Linked DNA regions of Homo sapiens: region 1 is linked to region 2. The links come from fine-mapping of genetic effects on gene expression. Tissue or cell type: whole blood. Region 2 holds a variant in brackets; the other region holds the start of a gene. All regions are shown on one strand. Distances are between the middles of the regions.

Region 1 (2,686 bases), 84 kb after region 2:
CTTGGGCAGCACCCCCACTCCCCACCCCCCAAGGCCCCATCCTGGAGGCTCCCTTCCTGGCTCTGACCTGGAAAGGCAGGTCAGCTGGGAAGCGGGTTTGTGCTGGCTACAGTGACAACTTGATTCTCATGAAAAGATAGGAGTTTGGCGCTCCAGGAGACCATGGGTTCCTTACAGGCTATGGTTTCAAGAGGAAGCCTGGGGACAGTTTCTCCTTAGGAATCTGCGTCCTCCTCCTCCGCAGACAAAGGGAGCGGCTTCCCTGCCATGCATTCCGAAGCCCCGAGCCTCCCCCTCCTCTCTCCATCTGCTCCGGCCTGTTGCTTCCGCGCATGTAGTGTGTAGCAGAGGCATTCGCCAATGCCGCGGCGTCCAGGGTACCCCAGCCCTAGTCTCTCCTCCCAGGGAGCCCGGCGCTTCCCTTACCCGACTGTAGCGAGAACCTCCGGGGAATCCCTTCTTCCTCCCCCAGTTCCCACACCCAGGACCCAGCTGCGGGGAGGCATCCCACACAGGAGACGCAGAGGCAGTGAGATCGGGGGTGAGGGGACGTGTGGCAAGCCCCAGCGTGCCTGAAGCAAAACAGGGTCAGGTCAGCCAAGGTGCCGGCCGCCACGGGATGAGGGCAGGAAGCCTTTGCGAAGGGCTGGGATTGCCTGTAGTCTGGGGCGGCCCTAGAATTTCTACATAGAAAGACTTAGGGCCACCAACTGCTGAAAAGCGGGGGCATGAAAGGGGTGGGGAGTGGATTGTTACCGACTAGGTTGAAGCTGGGTTTGCAAAACCACAACACTGATACTATTTGCATGGATGTTTAAGGGGGAGGGAGGATCCTGCGAGGATTCAGCGGAGTGAATCGCCTCCCACCACCACCTCTTGGTGACACTGCTGCACAGAAGTGCCGACTAGGTGGCCAAGGTGGGTTCACAGGGAGGGAGGTACCTTGGCAGGTTGGGAAGGTGGGAGCAGGCGGGGCGGGGTCAGGGGCGGCTGGCTCACCCGTGTCTTGGCGGAACTGGTTCATGGACTGCAGGTCGATGATGTAGGGCGCGAGACGGCTGTCCACCTGGCCCAGCACCACGCTGCCCCCCGCGCGGGGGCCGGCGCGGACCACCGCCTCGATGTGGTGGCTCACCGCTGGGCTGTAGGGACGCCAGCGGCCGTGCTCGTTCAGCCATTCCCAGACCACCACGGCCGAGGCCAGGAGCATGGCGAGCCCGGGGCTGCGGCGCTGCGCGGCCCGCCTCCCGGGCCCCGAGCGCCCGACCTCCTCCGCTTCCTCCTGCGCCGCCGCCTCCGGGCCTCGACCGCGCCCCCTGCCCCGCGCCCCGCCGCCCCGGGCAGCCTCAGCTCCGGCCCATGGGCTCCTCCCCAGCCGTGCATCCACCGGGGCCGGGACACCGGGGCCGCCTGGCTGGGACCGCGCGCCGCCGCCGCCGCCGGGGTCCGCTGCTGCTGCCGCTGCTCTGTGGGGTCGAGTCGCTTCATGCAAATGCCCGGCTCTCTGCAAACAGGCCCCCGCCTTGCAAAAGCCACTCGGCGGGCGCGCGGCCCGAGCCCCGGCGGCCGCGAGCTGGGGCTGACGGCGAGGCAAGGACCCAGCCCTCGCACCAGTTGCGCCTCGGCCTCTGCAGACGCCGGGGTGGGATCTCGCCGCACGGCCGCGCTCGGAATGGCACGCTCTGGTCCCCTCCCCTCTCTCCCTCCCTCCCCACCCCTTCGCCGCACGAATTGCAGTCCCCGCCGCTGGGAGAGCTCCCCCTGCCTGTGGCTCTGCTCAGTTCCTTCCAGAATGAACCACCCCTCCCAAGCAGGGCGCTAAGGCAAACCCGCGCCCGCGTGTGTTTCCCTGGTTCCTTGATGCAGAGAAGCGACCCGCCATGACACGGCCCCGGGACCACCACTGTCGCCCAGCCGCAACTTTGCAGCCTCCTTCCCCCAAATGTAATTTTCTCTCTCTCTCTCTTTTTTTTTCCTTAATGCAGCATGATCAGTGTCCGCAGCGCGAACTGGAGACACGCATTGTCTCGGGGCTTGCGCACGCACTGGCACACTCACAGTCGCACACACACGCGCGCGCACCCCAACTCCTTCCTTGCCCCGGCTCCTATTACCTCATCCTCTCCCGCATCCTTAGCTGTCCGTCAAGGAAGCAGAAGACACGCCCCCTGCTGCTCGGGCGAGTGCCCTGGAGCTTACCCGCCCCCTGCTGGCCTAAAGTGTCGTGTGCCGGCCAGTGGCCACTCCAACCTCTGCTAATGAGACCCAGTCCAAAGGGATGCAGCAATTTCGCTAATGATGGATTTATATTACCTACGTAGAGAGCAAATGTGGTTTTTCTGGCCAGATTCAACGTACTAGAGTCAGGAAGACGCATGTTAGATTAATTTTATCTGCATCGTTTCTGTAACTAAAATTATGAAACACTAGGAAAAACACGAGTTAGACTTATTTTGATCATCAATAGTTAATATGGAAAATAACCTTAAATAGGTAGGTTCTGACTAAAAGGGAAGACTGAAGTCAGGATTATGCATTATCCTTGTCAAAGAACACAAATTTTGTTTTGTTGAGATTGCAAACCACATAAAACAACGAATCGAGTCTTATCAAGATCCAAGTTATAGGATGCGGGAAAGTAAAAATAGATTATGTGTTAGAGAATGGGATTGTGAATCTTTTTGAA
Region 2 (2,686 bases):
CATGTTTAAAAAACGTGAATGCCTCTACTCAGTTTTCATCTTGTTTCAGTTGAGCACCTGTTCCTAAGGCCCAGGCACCAGTTCCCAAGGCTCCTACAAACCCTTAATGCCCAGCTGTTGGAGCTTCCAGGACCCATATGCAGGAGTGGGTGGTTGGAAATGGGATGACTGGGTCCTTGGGGCTCCCTGCTCACCTTCCTCATCTGCTCGAGCTTGTCTTCATCCTTGAGGAAGGTCAAGTACATGAAAGACACGTCCACAACACAGTTGCCCCCAAAGTGCCTGTGCTCCTCGATGGTGTCTCTCTCTCCAGAAAATGCATGCTTACTGATCTGCACCAGAAGAGAACACAGAACCACTCATGAGTCCTGCTCATCCTGTGCCTGGAAACTGGCTAGGGGCCCAAGTGTGGAAGTCAAAGGTGTGAGTGCTGTCACATTCTGGACCATAGAAAGGCCAAGGTGCACAGCCGGCAGCCCCACCATTGTTCCTTCCTGCAAAGCCTGAGCTACCATGGGGCTCACTGCAGGAGAGGCGGGGGGCAGATTAGCTTTGTGCTCCCCCATCGTCAGAGATACAGGAGACTAGAGTTGGGAAAGCCAAAGCACTAATTGAACTGAAACTTGGGAGAGGAGTTTGGGAGATCCTCCTGCCTCGGCACTTTGGGAGGCAGAGGTGGGAGGATTGATTGAGGCCAGGAGGTCAAGACCAGCCTGGGCAACTTAGTGAGACATAGTGAGCCCCTGTCTCTACAAAAACAATTAAGGAATTAGCTGGTGTGGTGACATGCACCCAAAGTCCTAGGAGAGTGAGGTGGAAGGATCACTTGAGCCCAGGAGTTCGAGGTTACAGTGTACTATGACTGTACCACTGCACTCCAGCCTGGGTTACAGGGCAAGATCCTGTTTCTAAAAAAATAAATAAATAAAAGAAAAAGGATGAGTAAGCCATCCTCAGAGGAAAGGAGATGGCAGGGAGGGCAGCTGGCTCTTTGGGACAGGTAGTGGGGTGTTAACAGGGGACAGAAAAGCAGCACCCAACCCAACTGGCTTCTGCCTTCTCCACCATGGAAAGCAGAACAAGAAGGCACGAGAATAAGGCAATAAGGGAAAGCAAAACCCACCAAAAGTGAACAGGTAGAAAGGGCCTGCAGGCAGGTCTCCGCTTAAAAACAGGCAAAGTTTAGGAGCTGAAAAATTCTAAAACTAACGAAATGACTTTTAGGAATCATTGAAGATAATCATGGCGTAATTAGGGCTAAGAGGTGGGAAAAATAAAAGTCAGCAAAGATTGGCACAATTCCTTCAACATTCTTTCAATGAGCATTTGAGAAAGCTCTAATATACAAAGATCATACAAATTTTCTTTTTTTTTTTTTTTT[G/TG]AGGCAGGGTCTCTTCTCTGTCACCCAAGCTGGAGTACAGTGGTACGATCACCGCTCACTGCAGCCTTGACCTCTGGGGCTCAGGTGACTCTCCTGCCTCAGCCTCCCAAGGAGAATTCCAGAGCAGATTCTTAACTGGATAACTTGGGATCGTGTAGAAGGAGCAGACGAATGTTGGGGCAAAGGCACAGGTCTCTATCTTGGCAGGGCACTGCCCAGAAGCTAGGCAGAGAAAGCAGCAGTCATGGGAGAGGCTCAGGCAAGGCCCTGCAGGAGGGGCTGGCACCATGTAGGCTGGCTGGTGGGTGGGCCTGCGGGGCTGAAAAAAAAATAGCAAATGGATGTTTATCTTCCCTTTCCTTAAGAAAAAAATAAAAAGGAAAAGAAAAAGAAAAGAAAAAAAAAAAGAGAAGGCCTTCTCTCATCTTTAAAAGGATTAGCCCTGCTACCTCCCAGTGAGAATTAAAAATGAGATAACATAAATAAGGCACCCGGTCCAGCCCCTGGAACACAGCTGATGATCAGAAATATACAAAACTCATTTTCATTGTTTAATAATATCCACATTAATTATAACTTTAAGAACATCGTCGTGACTTTGCTTCTAGTACAGCGTTGGTAAGAAAAGCAGAAAAGGAAAAAAAAATTGTCTGGGCGTGGTGGCTCATGCCTGTAATACAAGCATTTTGAGAGGCTGAGGCGGGCGGATCACCTGAGGTCAGGAGTTCGAGATCAACCTGGTCAACATGGAGAAACCCCGTCTCTACTAAAAAATACAAAAATTAACTGGGTGCAGGGCCTGGGGGGGCATGCCTGTAATCCCAGCTACTCAGGAGGCTGAGGCAGGAGATTCACTTAAACCCAGAAGGCAGAGGTTGCAGTAAGCCAAGATCATGCCACTGCACTCCAGCCTAGATGACAGAGTGAGACTCCATCTCAAAAAAAAAAAAGAAAGAAAGAAAGAAAGAAATTCAAAATGTTAGCTAAATGAAAGGACACAAAACAAATTCATGTGATACCTGGGAATAGGGACAAGGCTGCCTTGAGTTCTGCAGGGAGCATAGTTGGGAATCCTGGACTCCTGGAATTCAGCATCGCTATGGTGGCTGGGGCCCAAAGGACTGTGCAATGGTGTGTGTTTGTGTGTGTCCCCCCGGGGCATGTTTCTACTCCCACTGGCTGTCCTGTGCCCTGGGCACTGCTCACCTTGGTCTTGATCTGCATGGCCATGTTGGTGAGGAAGATAAAAGAGCTGGGGTCACTGGCACTCATTTTGTTCTGGATGCCCTGCAGGTCAGAGAAGAA

Evidence for each region. PIP is the estimated chance that this variant, and not a neighbour inherited with it, causes the effect.
Region 1: it holds the start of DTX4, and the variant in region 2 is fine-mapped to the expression of DTX4 in whole blood (INTERVAL, PIP above 0.99).

Annotation. Positions count from the first base shown.
Region 1 is chr11:59,171,120-59,173,805 of GRCh38, reverse strand. DTX4 (deltex E3 ubiquitin ligase 4) reads right to left here and starts at 1,674. Exons shown (of 9, transcript NM_015177.2): 1 at 1,000-1,674. The coding sequence starts at 1,210. It overlaps LOC124902601 (basic proline-rich protein-like), which reads left to right and starts at 361. Exons shown (of 2, transcript XM_047427951.1): 1 at 361-541; 2 at 1,076-2,686. The coding sequence starts at 361. The coding sequence ends at 1,884. LOC124902675 (a long non-coding RNA gene) reads left to right here. Exons shown (of 4, transcript XR_007062682.1): 4 at 1-107. RefSeq lists enhancers at 608-717, 160-988, 1,616-1,910, 1,997-2,537 and silencers at 1,058-1,107, 1,168-1,737.
Region 2 is chr11:59,255,437-59,258,122 of GRCh38, reverse strand. It overlaps the pseudogene WARS1P1. Among named protein-coding and RNA genes, the nearest start is that of MPEG1, 44 kb to the right of the region's middle. The variant G/TG (reference allele first, on the strand shown) is at 1,382.